2 separate regions of the Homo sapiens genome follow, and region 1 is linked to region 2. The links come from fine-mapping of genetic effects on gene expression. Tissue or cell type: whole blood. Region 2 holds a variant in brackets; the other region holds the start of a gene. All regions are shown on one strand. Distances are between the middles of the regions.

The links. PIP is the estimated chance that this variant, and not a neighbour inherited with it, causes the effect.
Region 1: TAFA2 starts here. The variant in region 2 is fine-mapped to the expression of TAFA2 in whole blood (INTERVAL, PIP 0.99).

The regions. Positions count from the first base shown.
Region 1 is chr12:62,189,529-62,197,528 of GRCh38, reverse strand. It overlaps TAFA2 (TAFA chemokine like family member 2), which reads left to right and starts at 4,756. Exons shown (of 5, transcript NM_178539.5): 1 at 4,756-6,270. RefSeq lists a silencer at 3,167-3,461 and an enhancer at 4,831-5,364.
Region 2 is chr12:62,437,351-62,445,350 of GRCh38, reverse strand. No RefSeq gene overlaps it. Among named protein-coding and RNA genes, the nearest start is that of MON2, 25 kb to the left of the region's middle. The variant A/G (reference allele first, on the strand shown) is at 3,382.

The DNA.
Region 1 (8,000 bases), 250 kb after region 2:
ATACCCATGTGTCAAAACTCATCAAATTGTACACTTTAAATACATGCAGTTGATTGTATATCAATTATACTTCAATAAAGTAATTTTCTATAAAAGGCAAAAAAGAAAAAGCCTGAAGTGCACCAAAGTGATTTTTAGCGAACAGAACATGGAAAGCTATGATAGAGTTACAATCCAGTTAAGTTCAGTGTTTAAAGAAATTATTTTTTACTGCTTAGACTTGAGGAGGATGGCAATTTAAACAAATATGGCTATTCCTCAGCTTGTTGTGCCTTACTTTATTGCAGCAGTCCCCAACCTTTTCAGCACCAGGGACCGGTTTCATGGAGGACAATTTTTTTCAATGGACAGTTGGTGGGGGATAATTTCGGGATGAAACCATCCCACCTCAGATCATCAGGCATTAGATTCTCATAAGGAGCGCACAACCTGGATCCCTTGCATGTGCAGTTTACAATAGGGTTCAGGCTCCTGTGAGAATCTAATGCCGCAGCTGATCTGACAGGAGATGGAGCTCAGGCGGTAATGCTCATTTGCCCACAGCTCACCCCTGCTGTGAGGCTGGGTTACTAACAGGGAGGGTACCAGTCCCTGGGGGTTGGAGACCCCTTCTTTGCTGCACTTTGCAAATATTGTTTTTATTTATTATTATTATTTTCTTTTATTTTTACAAATTTAAGGTTTGTGGTAACCCTGTGTTGAATAAGTCCCTCAGTGCCATTTTTTCAGCAGCATGTGCTCACTTCATGTCTCTGTGTTAGATTTTGGTAATTCTCACAATATTTCAGACTTTTTGTATTATTCTTGTATCTGTTATGGCGGTCTGTGATCACTGGTCTTTGATGTTACTATTATAATTGTCTTAGGATGCAATGAACTGTGCCTATGTAAGATGGCAAACTTAATTAATAAATGTTGTGTGGTTCTGACTGTTTCACCAACTGGCTGTTCCCCCAACTCCCTCTCTCTCCTGGGGTCTCCCTATTCCCTGACCTAATATTGAAATTAGGCCCATTAATATAACCCTACAGTGGTCTGTAAGTGTTCAAATGAAAGGAAGAGTCTCATGTCTCTCACTTTAAATCAAAAGCTTAATAGGGAGGAAGGCATGTCAAAAGCTGAGAACTAGGCCTCTTGAGCCAAACTGCTAGGCAAGTTGTGAATGCAAAGGAAAAGTTCAAGAAGGAAATGAAAAGTGCTGCTCCAGTGAACACACAATGATAAGGAAGCAAAACAGTCTTATTGCTGACATAGAGAAAGCTTTGGTGGTCTAGATAGAAAATCAAACCAGCCACAACATTCCTTTTAGCCAGGGTCTAATCCAGAGCAAAGCCTTAACTCTCTTCAATTCTATAAAGGCTGAAAGAAAGGTAAAAAATCTTCAGAAGAAAAATTTGAAACTAGCAGAGGTTGGTTCATGAGATTTAAAGAAAGAAGCTGTCTCCATAATACATGAGTAAAAGGTGAGGCAGTAAGTGCTTAGGTAGAAGCTGCAGCAAGTTATCCAGAAGATCTAGCTAAGATCATTGATGAAGGTGGATACACTAAACAACAGATTTTCAATGTAAATAAACATCCTTATATTGGAAGAGGATGACATCTGGGACTTTCCCAGCTAGAGAGAAGTCAGTGCCTGGCTTCGAAGCTTCAAAGGACAGGATGACTCTCTTGTTAGAGGATAATGCAGCTGGTGACTTTAAGTTGGAGCCAATGCTCATTTGCTATTCTGAAAATCGTATGGCCCTTAAGAATTATAATAAATCTACTCTGCTTGTGTTTTATAAATGGAAAAAGAAAGCCTGATAGCAGCACATTTGTTTACAGCATATTTTATTAAATATTTTAAGCCTACTGTTGAGAGCTACTGGCTTCACAAAAAGATTCCTTTCAAAATACTACTGCTTATTGACAATACATTTGGTCATCCAACAGCTCTGATGAAGATGTACAAGAAGGTTCATGTTGTTTTCATGCCTGCTAACACAACATCTGTTCTGCAGCCCATAGGTCAAGGAGTAATTTTGCCTTTCAAGTCTTCTTATTTAAGAAATATATTTTGCTAGGCTACATCTGTCATAGATAATGATTCCTCTGATGGATCTGGGCAAAGTAAATTGAAAAGCTTCTGGAGATCATTCACCATTCTAGATGCTAGAAGAGTTGCTTCTGTGGATGAGCAAAGTAGTTTTTTTTGAGATGGAATTTACTCATGGTGAAGATGCTGTGAATATTGTTGAAATGACAACAAAGGATTTTGAATATTTTATAAACCTGACTGATAAAGCAGTGGCAGAGTTGAGAGGACTAACTCCAATTTTGAAAGAAGTTCTACTGTGGATAAAATGCTATCAAGCAGCATTGCATGTTACAGAGAAATCTTTTGTGAAAGGAAGAGTCAATTGACACAGCAAACCTCATTATTGTCTTATTTTAAGAAATCGCCACAGCAATTCCAACCTTCAGCAACCACTACCCTGATCCATCAGCAGCCATCAACACTGAAACAAGACTCTCCATCAGCAAAGAGATTAGGAATCACTGAAGGCTCAGATCATCAGTACACTTTTTTTAAAAAAAGCATTAAACCATTTTCAAGGTAAGATATGTACATTTTTAAGACAAAATGCTATTGCATACCTAATGGACTGCAGTATGGTGTAAACATAACTTTCACATGTGTTGAGAAACCAAAAAAATTGTGTGACTCACTTTATTGCAATATTTGTGGTGGTTTGGAACCAAACCTGCAACATTTTTGAGGCATGCCTGTAGAAGGTAAGAAGTATCAACAAAAAATTTCTGTTAAATTAGGAGAATCTTTACTACTTTGTTTCCTTTGAAGAGAATGCAAAAGATTTTATTTTGTCTAGGAGATGCTGGAAATAGGAATATCTTGATCTAAAAATTATTGGGAATTATTTACAAAAAGCACAGAGGTTATGATAGAATTTCAGCATCATATGACATTGGATAAGAAATTTTGTTCTATTTTGTAATTAATTTATATATCTGTTCTCTTTACTTTTTCATATATTGTAAAAACACAGTGGGTTTAGTTAGAAAAATAAGGCTGAAAATGTCCCACACTTAAACAATACAAATAAAATTTTAACAAGATGACAAAACTATAGATTACAACCACAAAAAGTTAATGAATTAGAAGGTAGAAAGATTATAATGTATGCTTTATGTTTTTTTGTATGTGTGTGTGTGTGTGTGTGTGTGTGAAAAGAAAGCCAATGTTCTAAAGTGATTTTGTAAGTGACTTCTTTCTAGTACAGAGTCCAAGTTTCCAATGTCATTCCTGCTTGAATTTCATCACACTATTGAACACAGCAGACAAAAAAATACTGTAAGATTTGCAGTGCAACAGTGCCAGGTGTTTTAAAATGTAAACGTTGCTTTCCTGGATATAAGTTACTATGTAAGTGGAATGAAATATTTAATCACATGGCATAAATCTTTTGAAAGAGACTATCTGAGAGATCCTTGGAAACAAATGATTGCTGTATACTACTAGACAAAGTCAAATATGCCATAGAGCAATTAGTTACGGTAAAACTTGCCTTGTTTAGTTTTGGTGCTTTGTTTTAAATGATTTCAACTAGTCTCAGCTATTTAAAAAATACATTCTTTTCTTTCTTTATGACTGTGCTAATTTAGATTATCAAGTTAAAATAGAACTGCTCCAGAAATTCAGAGTGAATGGAAGGGTGTTTAATAATAACTTTAATACACATTTTACAATTTTTGAACATACAGAAACATTTTGAAAGCAAACCCCCAGCTCAAATAGTAAGTTCACAAAAATCTAAATGTTAAGGTTACAGATGGGACCTAGCTTGATTTGGACTGATGTAACAAAACTTTATAAAATCGGTGGAGCTATTTTTTATAAAAATGACCACCTCAACATAATTAAATTACTTGATGCATTTTAGATACAAAATATGGTTGATTTACTAAGCATGTTAAGATAAAATAGCTAAGTGAAGCACATATTCTATATTTCTTTGTAAATATGGTATGTAGTATTACTTTTATTTTATAGCTGGTGAAGAGAGCTTGTGATACCTAATTTGTCAATGGTTTCAGTGAATCACAGCTATATAAAAGCACAGACCTTTAGAGCTGGAAGGAATTTAGCTATCTTGACCATTATTGGTCTAGTTGAAAAAGAGGTATGAAAACTGGCTCCAAAACCAGATTCTTGAGTTATCTTTCCTTGTAAAGGACTTGTAAAATTTCCTGGGTCAGCATTCCCTTTCTTTGTTTCAGATTTTCTTTTTCTGAATTCATTCTTACTAATTATTCATTTTTGAATAGTCTTCTAATCACTAGATTAAGGTTTTGCTCATCTCCAAACATGATCGAAGTGAGCCTCAGAAGACCCTTCATTTGAGCTCATATGCACAGCGCTTAAACCGACACCCAATTTGACCAAACATGTAAGGACATGACCTTCCAGCGTCATGAATATCACGACGTTCCTTTAGCAAGGGCTTTGCTTAATAGGGCTGCAGTGAAAATCCTCCGTCTAAATCCTTGAGAAGTTGTAATTTGTAAAAATGCAAATTATCTGAAACCAGATATTTTTTTCTTTTTCTTTATGGAGAGAAACTGGTCTGTTACATCTAGTAAAGCGTTCTAATCCGGTTGACCCTCTAGAGGGAGACATAGTCCAGCTTTTATACCAGTTGCCTCCTCATCTTTTACTGTCTCGTTCTTTTTCTGCAGGACCGTTGTTTGCTCTCAACGGCAGTTGCTGGGGCTAACAGAACTGGCTGTTGGGAGAGAGAGGCGAGGCAACGCCGCCCGGCCCTGCCATTCCATTTTACTGCTTAACTCAACCTGGAGTGTCAGGACCTATTCTCCTGCATTCTCGCTGCACTATACGGGGGAGCCAAGTCACTCTGTACTCACTGGACAGCCAGGCTGGGTGGAATAGGGTTCTAGAGTGGAGCAGGGGCTCTGCCCTTTATGGCGACTTTCTAAAAGATTAGCATCAGTGTCTTTTGACAGTATAGCATCTGGGGTGGGACGCGGAGAGGAGGCTTTGCTTGCTAAACGGCTTCTTTCTCCGCCGGTGATCTGGATTTGTTTCCTCGGCCCCCTCCCCCCGCTCCTTTCTTTCTCCCCTCCCGCCTTTAGCAAAGTGACACAGGCGACACCTGCTCGCTTGTGTTCGATGTTGGAACTCGCACCTCCTCGGTGGTGACGGTGCCAGGGCACTGCTACCAGGGGGACATCGGCGGGTTTCCCTTCCTTCCAGCCCACGATGCCTAGAAGGGCAGCGGGTGGGCTGCGTGGGGCTCTGCCCGCAGCACTTCGAGGCGGGATTGAGGGGCTGAAGCTGGCCAGGAGTTGCTGCTAAGTGGATTCGAGTGGAAGGCGCCAAGTCTCCGCGAGGGCACCAGCGGGGACCTATCTGCGAGCAGTGGGAACAGGGGCACCTGGACGGAGGAACGCGGGCGTCTGGAGGGGGGACATCGGCTGAGCTCAGAGCCTCTCCTCCTTCCTGTCCCGAGCTTCCCAGCAACTCCGCCACGTTGGAGACCCGGTACCTGCGAGAGCCAGGGAACTCGAGAAGTGCGTGGCCGAGGCTGCTTTCCTGAAGGTGAATCATTCTGTCCAATTGCCTTTCCCCAGAGAACAAGAGGGAGGGCGGGAGAGAGGGAACGGAGGATGTGTGAGTGTGTGTGTGTGTGAGAGGGAGAGACGACGTGAGGCGAGAGGAAAAGTCTTTAGTCGGCCTTAAAAGCAAACAAATCAGAGATGGAATAAGAGCGGTAATTGCAGCAAGACCGCCTTGATTCTTGCAGTCCAGGGAGCTGAGCGCACCGCGCGCATCCGGCGAGGACAGGAGGCGACCGCGGGCGCTGCCAAGGGCTGCGGGACTTTGGCTTTTCCTCAGTAAACAAATCTTTTGATTACTTTGACACTGTGGAATAAAGAAGCGGGGAGAAGGATCAGGCTCACCTTCACCCGCTTCAGGGGGATTCCAGCTTGGATGTCAGATTCCTGAACCGTCTTTGCCATCGGAGGAGGAAACACATCCACACACGCGCGCGCACACTCGCACGCTCAGGGCCACACTCACACGCCGCCCTCCACGATCACACAGCACCAGACTTCGGTTCCCTATGCCCCTGGATGGTGACGGCGGATTGGCATCTTGGAAGCGATGCGAGAGCGATAAGGCTGGCGCCGGCCCGCAAAAGCTGCAGGAGCATCGCTAGGTGTTGCCGCCACCGGGAAGCGGGGCTGCAGGTAGGTGCGAGCCGCGCCTCGGGTCGCCGGCCAGCGCTGGGGACCGGAGCGGCAACTGCAGGACCGCGGTCCCGGAAGCCCCCGTGTGCACACGTCTCCCTTCCCCTTTCTCGGGGGTCCGGGACTGTAGAGGGATCGCCCGGGGAAGGCGAGAGGTGAGGGCAGATGCGGGTCCATCGGCCGGCGTCTCCCTCGCGGGCGGTCAGGGTAGGGGCGGAGTAGAGGGACGCCGAGAGGGGATCGGAGCATGCGAAATGAGGCTCCGTGAGCGGTGCCCTCCCTCTCTGCCCCATTTCTCCTAATAACAGCAAACGACCAGGTCGAGGATTGAAGTGGGTTGTAATTCGATTCCTCACCCAGACCCATCCTGGCTGGTAACCATTTTGGACTCTTAATAAGGAGTTGGGGGTCGCATTCCAGGGAAGATCAATGGGATGTGTCAGGTCATCTTTCTGAAATCCCTACTTTTTGTCCACTTCTGATTAGTTAATTCTCAGGCCTGTTTGCAGAAGGTGGGTGTTTCAGCGAGTCTATTGATTTATCCACCTCTAACTATCTTCATAAAGAATCAAGCTGATAATTTCCGGAGCCTCATCTATGTAAGGTTTATTTAGATTTGGGACGGGGCGCTTTCTTACTGAATGAAATAAAGCTTTTGTAAAGGCTACTACAAGAGAGCTTTAGTAAATGATTCTCTTAACGAACAGCGTTCAGAATAAGAATGGCTTCGGGAAACTAATGGTTTTTTATTTCTTTCCGGTTAGATGTCTCCCGGATCTTGCTACTAGTACCCGGGTTTTCTGCTAACTGCTTTGCCATTCCTTCCCCCTTCAATTCTGAAAGGCCAGGTGCCTACCAAGTATTGTTTTCTTGAGGCTACTGATCTTCACTTATCAATGGGGGAACGTGTTATTTTCAGAAACTGGCTTTGCAAAGGAAAGTTTGAGATCCGTCGCCCTATTTCTCTCAGAACTGCAGGTTGAGTTATCCTGTCTGAAAAGGAAGAACCATAGACGCTCGTAGAGCCTTTGGGTGGACGCGAGGCTTCCCTATTGAGTATTCCACGTCCTGACCGAGTGTTAAACAATTGCCTGAAGCGTTTGGAATCAAATGTGTAGTAATGTTACTCCAGCGGCTAGTCTCTCTTCACCTTTGCTGCGTGAGTTTGATTATGGCAATAAGAGAGAGAGAGGGAAAAAATTATCTTTTTGTGAGTATGAAATCCCCTCTTGGATTTTACAAAATGGTTCGTGGAGAAAAAAAACCTTAAAAACCACAGACACACACACACACACACACACACACACACACACACACAAAGCAAACTCATAAGCAACCTTTACTCTGAAGTGTCCCCAAAGTACTTGGTAGTGTAGCAGGGTCCTTCACACAGGACAGGATGAATTTCAGTTACTATTGACTGAATGATAATTATCTGATTCTTGTCTTCTCAACTAGATTGTTTTAAACATCAACATTCAGAGTTGTCAATTAACACTCCTAAACTGCTTTATTAGGCATATAAGTTAAGACAAATGAACAATTAATTTAAGATTTTTGTGTAAAGTGCTAAACCAAAATAACCAGGAAAGGAGATTAAAAACACTTCTAAAGCTTTAAAAATCAGAAGATTAAGATTATTTGTACTTACCCCAGCCTTTCCATGTTTGCATTTGTACTCTCAGACTGATTAATCATTTGCAATATCAAAATTGGCACCTAACATCCTA
Region 2 (8,000 bases):
GCTGGCCATGGTGGTGCATGCCTGTAATCCTAGCTACTTGGGAAGCTGAGGTGGGAGGATCACTTGAATCTGGGAGGCCGAGGTTACAGTGAGCCAAGCCTGGGAGACAGAGTGAGACTCTGTCAAAAAAAAAAAAAAAAATTTACAAAACTTAGAAATACCAGTGTCTCCAGATTAGTAGGAACCAGCACAAGAATTCTTGCACCATGAAAAATCTGAATGTAGTGACACTACCAAAAGTTCACACAGCTCTCCAGTAATGGTTCCTAATGAAAATGGAAACTCAGAAATGACAGATAAAAAAATTCAAAGCATGGATTGCAAGGAAAATCAATTAGATCCAAGATAAGATTGAAAATCAACACAAAGAAACTTCTAGAGCAATCCAGGAAATGAAGAAAGAGATAAACATCCTAAAAAGAAATCAACCAGAGTTTCTGGAATTGAGAAACTCACTTAAGGAATTTCAAATACAATTGAAAGCTTTATTAATAGACTAAACCAAGCAGAAGAAAGAATTTCAGAGTCTTGTCTTTCAAACTAATCCAGCGAGACAAAAATAAAGAAAATAATTTAAAAAAATGAATAAAGTTTTCAAGAAATATGGGGAGCATATAAAGCGACCAAAGGTATGAAGTATGGAATTCTGGAAAGAAGGAGAAAAAGCAAACAAACTGGAAAACATATTTGAGGGAATAATTTAAGATAATTTCCCTAATCTTTCCAGAAACATTGACATCTGGGTACAAGAAATCCAAAAAACACCTGAAAGATGCTATACAAAGTGAACATCATCAAGGCATATAGTCACGACTGTCCAAGGTCATTGCTAAAGATAAAAATCCTTTTTTTTTTTTGAGACAGAGTTTCACTCTGTCACCCAGGCTGGAGTGCAGTGGCGTGATCTCAGCTCACTGCAATCTCTACCTCCCAGGCTCAAGCGATTCTTCTGCCTCAGCCTCCCAAGTAGCTGGGATACAGGCATGCACCACCACCCCCAGCTAATTTTTGTATTTTTAGTAGAGATGGGGTTTCACCATGTTTGTCAGGCTGATCTTGAACTCCTAACCCTGTGATACACTCGCCTTGGCCTACCAAAGTGCTGGGATTATAGGTGTGAGCCACTGCACCCGGCAAGAAAAAAATCTTAAAAGCAGCTAGAGAAAAAGGTCAGATCATGTACAAAGGGAACCCCATCAGGCTAACAGTGGACTTCTTAGCAGAAACCTTAAAAGCTAGGAGAGATTGGGGACCTATTTTTACCATTCTTAAACAAAAGAAATTCCAACCAAGAATTTCACATCCTGCCAAACTAAGCTTCATAAGCAAAGAAGAAATAAAATATTTTCCAGACAAGCAAGTGCTAAGGGAATTCATTGTCACTAGACCAGCCTTATGAGCAATCCTTAAGGGAGTTCTAAACAGAAATAAAAGCACAAAAGCACGCTAAAGTACATAACTCACAGACCCTATAAAACAACCACACAACAGAAACTGCAAAGCAACCAGCTAACAAATTTGTGTTAGGATCAAAACCTCACATGTCAATATTAACCTTAAAGGTAAATGGTCTAAATGACCCACTTAAAAGTCAAAGTGGCAAGTTGGATAAAAATATCAAGACTCATCTGTCTGCTGTCTTCAAGAGACCCATCTCACAGGTAACTACACCAACAGGCTCGAAGTAAAGAGTTAGAGAAAGATCTACCACACAAACAGAAAACAAAAAAAGAGCAGAAGTTATTGTTTTTATATCAGATGAAACAGAATTTAAACCAACAACAGTGAAAAAGTAGAAAGAAGGGCATTATATAATGATAAAGGGTTCAATTCAACAAGAAGACTCAACTATCCTAAATATATATGCACCCAAAATTGGAGCACGCAGATTCATAAAGCAATTACTTCTACACCTATGCAAAGACTTAGACAGCCACACAATAATAACGAGGGACTTCAGTATCCCACTGGCAGTGTTAGACAGATCGTTGAGGTAGAAAGCTAACAAAGAAATTCTGGACTTAAATTCGACACTTGATGAATTGGAATTAATAGACATCTGCAGAATACCCCACTCATCCACCACAGAATATACACTCTTCTCATCTGCACACAGAGCATACTCCATGATCAACCACATGCTCAGCCATAAAGCAAGTCTGAATAAATTCAAAAAAATTGAAATCATACCAACCATACTCTTAGACCACAGTGGAATAAAACTAGAAATCAATAGCAATAAGATCTCTCAAAACCACACAATTACATGGAAATTAAATAACTTGCTCTTGAGTGACTTTTTGGCTAATAATGAAATTAAGGCAAAAATTTAAAAATTCTTTGAAATAAAAGATAACAGAAACACAACATATCAAAATCTCTGGAGTGCAGCAAAAGCAGTCTTAAGAGGAAAGTTTATAGGTCTAAATGCCTACCTCAAAACATTAGAAATATCTCAAACTATCTAATATCACACCTAAAGAAACTAGAAAAGCAAGAACAAACTAACCATAAGCTAGCAGAAGAAAAGAAATAACTACAATCGAAGCTGAACTGAATGAAATTGAGACCCCAAAATTCATACAAAACATCAACAAAACCAAAAGCTGGTTCTTTGAAAGGATAAACAGGACTGATAGACCACTATCTAGATTATCAAAAGAAAAAAAAAGAGAAGATCCAAATAAACACAATCAGAAACAACAAAGATGACATTACAACCAATTCCACAGAAACACAAATGATCCTCTGAGACTATTATGAACACCTCTATGCATACAAACTAGAAAATACAGAAGAAATGAATAAATCCTTGGAAACACACAATCTCTCAAGATTGAACCAAGGAGAAATTGAAAACCTAAACAGGGCAATACTGAGTTCTGAAATTGAAGTAGTAATTTAAAAATCAACCAATTAACAAAAGCCCTGGACCAGATAGATTTACAGCTGAATTTTACCAGATATACAAAAGAGAGCTGGTACTAATTCTACTGAAACCAATCCAAAAAATTGAGGAGGAGGTTCTCCTCCCTAACTCATTCTATGAAGCCAGCATCACACTGATACTAAAGCTAGACAAGGATAAAACAAATGAAGAAAACTACAGACCAATATTGCTGATGAACACAGACAGAAAAATCCTCAACAAAATACTAGCAAATTGAATTCATCAGTACATCAAAAAGTTAGATCAAGTAGGTTTCATTCATGGAATGCATGGTTGGTTCAACATACACAAATTAATACATATGATTCATCACATAACAGAATTAAAAACAAAAACCTTATGATCATCTTAATAGATGCGGAAAATGCTTTCTATAAAAGCTATAACTTCTATCTGATAAAAACTCTCAAGAAACTAGGCATCAAAGGAAC[A/G]TACTTTGAAATAATAAAGAGCTATCTATGACAAACCTACAGCCAACATCATACTGAATAGGCAAAAACTGAAAGCATTCCCTTTTGAGAACTGGAACAAGACAAGAATGGTCGCTCTTACTACTCCCATGCAACATAGTACTGGAAGTGCTAGCCAGAACAATCAGGCAAGAAAAAGAAATAAAAGGCATCCAAACAAGAAAAGAACAAGTCAAACTATATCTCTTCATGAATAATATGATTCTATACCCAGAAAACCCTGGAGACCCTGCTAAAAGGCTCTTGAAACTGATAAGCAACTTCAATAAAGTTTAAGGATACCAAATCAATGTACAAAAGTAGGTAGAATTTCTATACCCCAATAACATTCCAGCTGAGAGCCAAACCAAGAATGCAATCCCATTTACAATAACCACAAAAACAAACAATAAAATACCTAGGAACACATCTAACGAAGGTGGTGAAAGATCTCTATAAGGAGACTTACAAAACACTGCTAAAAGAAATAATAGATGACACAAACAAATGGAAAAACATTCCATGCTCATTAATTGGAAGAATGAACATCATTAAAACGGCCATACTGCCCAAAGCAATCTACGGATTCAAGTTATTCCTATCAAACTATCAATGTCATTTTTTTCACACAACTAAAAATACTATCCTAAATTTCATGTGGAAATTAAAAAGAGCCTGGATAGCCAAAGCAATCCTAAGCAAAAACAACAAAGCCAGAGGCATCACATTACCCAATGTCAAACTATACTATAAGGCTACAGTAATCAAAACAGCATGGTATTGATACAAAAACAGACACATAGACCAGTGGAACAGAATAGAGAACTAGAAATAAAGCTGCAAACCTACAGTCATCTGATTTTCAACAAAGTTGACAAAAATAAGCAATGGAGAAAGGACACCCTCTTCAATAAGTTGTGCTGGAATAGCTGGCTAACCACATGCAGAAGAATGAAACTAGACCCTTTTTTTATACCATATACAAAAATTAACTCAAGATGAATCAAAACTGAAATGTAAAACCCCAAACTATAAAAACCATGGAAGACAACCTAGGCAATACTATTCTGGTCATAGGAACAGGCAAAGATTTCATGATGAAGATGCCAAAAGCAATTATAACAACAGCAAAAATTGTCAAATGAGATCTAATTAAATGAAAGAGCTTCTGCACAGCAAAATAAACTATCAACATAGTGAACAGGCAACCTGCGGAATTGAAAAAAATTTTTTTGCAAATTATGTGCGTGACAAAGGCCTAATAGCCAGCATCTATAAGGAACTTAAACAAATTTACAAGAAAAAACCAAACAACCCCATTAAAAAGTGGGCAAAGGACATGAACAGACACTTTTCGCAAGAAGACATACATGCAGTCAACAATCATATGAAAGAAAGGTCACCATCACTGATAATTAGATAAATGCAAATCAAAACTACAATGAGACACCATCTCGCACCAGTCAGAATGGCTACTATTAAAAAGTCAAAAAAATAATTAGCCGGGTGTGGTGGCACACCCTGTAATCCCAGCTACTCGGGAGGCTGATGTGGGAGAATTGCTTGAACCCAGGAGGTTGAGGCTGCAGTGAACCGAGTTCGTGCCACTGCACTCCAGCTTGGGCAACAGAGAGAGACCCTGTCTCAAAAAAAAAAAAAAAAAAAAAAAGGGCCTGGCACAGTGGCTCACGCCTGTAATCCCAACTCCTAACACTTTGGGAGGCCAAGGCAGGCAGATCACAAGGTCAGGAGTTCGAGACCAGCCCGACCAACATGGTGAAACCCCCGTCTCTACTAAAAATACAAAAATTAGCCAGATGTGGTGGCATGCACCTGTAATCCCAGCTACTCAGGAGGCTGAGGCAGGAGAATCGCTTGAACCCAGGAGGCGGAGGTTGCAGTGAGCCGAGATCGCACCACTGCACTCCAGCCTGGGCGACAGAGCAAGACTCCATCTCAAAAAAAAAAAAAAAAAAGTAAAAAAATAACAGATGCTGTTGAGACTGTGGGAGAAAGGGGAGTGTAAATTAGTTCAGCCATTGTGGAAGACATTGTAGTGATTCCTCAAAGACCTAAAAACAGGACTACCATTTGACTCAGCAATCCCATTACTGGGTATATACCCCAAGGTATATAAATCATTCTATTATAAAAATACATGCACATGTATGTTCACTGCAGCACTATTCACAATAGCAAAGACATGGCATCAACCTAAATGCCCATCAGTGGTAGACTGGATAAAGAAAATGTGGTACAGACACACCATGGAATATTATGCAGCCATAAAAAAACCCCATGAGATTATGTCCTGTGCAGGATCATGGATGGAGCCGGAGGCCATTATCCTTAGCAAACTAACACAAGAACAGAAACCAAATACTACATGTTCTCATTATGAGACACATGGATACATAGAGAGAAAGAACACACACTGGGACTTATTTGAGGGCAAAGTGTGGGAGGAGGGAGAGGATCAGGAAAAATAATGAGTACAAGGCTTAATACCTGGGTGATGAAATAATCTGTACAACAAACTCCCATGACACAAGTTTACCTATATAACAAACCTACACATGTACCTCTGAACTTAAAATAAAAGTTAAATTTAAAAAAGAGACAGAGACAGCAGATCAGAAAGATAAACAGCAAAATATTAATGCTGGTTATCACTGGTTGGTGGGATATTAGACAATTTTTGCTTTTAACCGTGATCATTCAAATGCTTTATATTGAACCTGTACTGTTTTCAACATTAAAAAAAATACTCAGGTTTAAGAAGAAACTAAAAAATAAAAACAGAAAATTGAAGAATGCTCTTCTCTGTACTCTTAAAGCAAACAGGCCTGTTTGCCTTAAGAAAAGTTTAAAAAGCACAAATAAGAACTGTAAAAAGCACTGCAAATGTTAGATGATAAGGTATATGTTGTGTAGAAAGTGAAAATTGTATCTTTTATAAAACCATTATTAAACAAAGAAATACAATGTAAATTTCCTGGAAACATACCAGAAGCAAAACTTTTAAACAAAATTCTGAGCTGGGTTTGACTTCTAGGACTGCATGGGCCCCTATTGTAGCAGCTGTGAGTGCAGAAACCCAAAAGATCAGAGAGCAAGGTGATACCTGTGACTTAGCCCTTCAGTGTCAACCTGGACACATCCTCATAATAGCCCCATTCCCTAAAGGATGCGGTTCCCTGGATGGTCCAAAGTGGGACTTCAGCCTAGTCTTTACAGACTTTTTAAGCAAAAACTCAGGGAGGTTAAATAACAAGCCAAGGTTGCCCAGTTGGGGAGGCCTGATGTCTTGAGAATCTGTGTTTTCCCTACATCCCTGTCCTCAGTTGAGATTATCTGAGGAATGTAAAGGCAGAAATTTTTGTTACCTGGAGATTTGAAGAGAGACCAAATGTTTGTGGGAAAACGACAGTCAAATCGACCATCAAAATCAGTAGAAATGTATTCCTATTTACCAATTTTAACACGTTAATACCAATAATCATTTTTCTGTGCACCAATTGTATAGCTTAAGAATTTGAAGCTCCCGTACATCAAGTTGGAAGCACTTTTTCTTTAGTGAAGTCTTGGAAAGATCAGAATAACTGGGTTCACACAGCTGGACACTCCTGCCCCCTGCTGGCTAGAATTAACTAAAACCAGACGATTTTAAGTTAACTGTAGGAACAACACTTTGAAACCTCTCAACTTTTCTAATAAAAGATAGCCAGCTCTTCCCTTACTTTGACGGGTAAAGTTCTTAGTTTATTTTCTTCAAAAGAGAGAGAGAGGGAACAGCTTGCATTCTGCTTTTCCCTCCTCTTCCTCCATCTTGTTGCCTTGTCATAGCCTGCCCAAGTGCTGATTTGTTTCATTATATGGTAAGAAGATAAGGGCAGTGTGTTTATAATTCAAATGTAATCAACAGTTTAAAATAGTATCCAGTACACAGAAGGTGCTCAGTAAATGTTGAGCAAATAAGAAGCAGAGGCAAAGTTGGAGAGAAAGCTGGAGAGAAAGATTGAGAGACGAGGATAAGAAAGAGAACCTATTCTTTCATGGACTGTTTCTCCCCTCTATTTGGGAGAGATATTTATTTAAGAAATACTAATATCATCCTTAGTATGTGCCAGGCATAGGAAATAGGAACTCAGTTAAGTAGGCATAAACAGGCATTGTCCTAAGCACTTTACAAATATTCTTAGTCCTCATAATAAACCTATAAAGTGAACATTATTATATTTATTTTACAAATTCGGAGACTAAAGCAGGAAGATTAAGTGAAATTCCCCAATGTTTAATTGCTAGTATAAGTGATGGGGCTGAGATTTAATCCTAGGGAGTTTGGCTCCACAATTCACACTTTTAACCAGACACATGCTGCCTCTCCAAAAAATGCAAAGAGGGGAGAGCAGAGATAGGGGAGAGCACAGAGAGGGGAGAAAAATAGTTGCGGAAGAATTGTACCAATCTTTCCACATAAGTCACTTGCCTTCTGGAACATTGTTAGAGTGGGTTATTTCAAAAGACCTGTCTTCAAGTCTGACATTCTCTCTGCTGCTTGGTCTAGTCTATTGTTGAAGCTTTCAACTATATTTTGTATT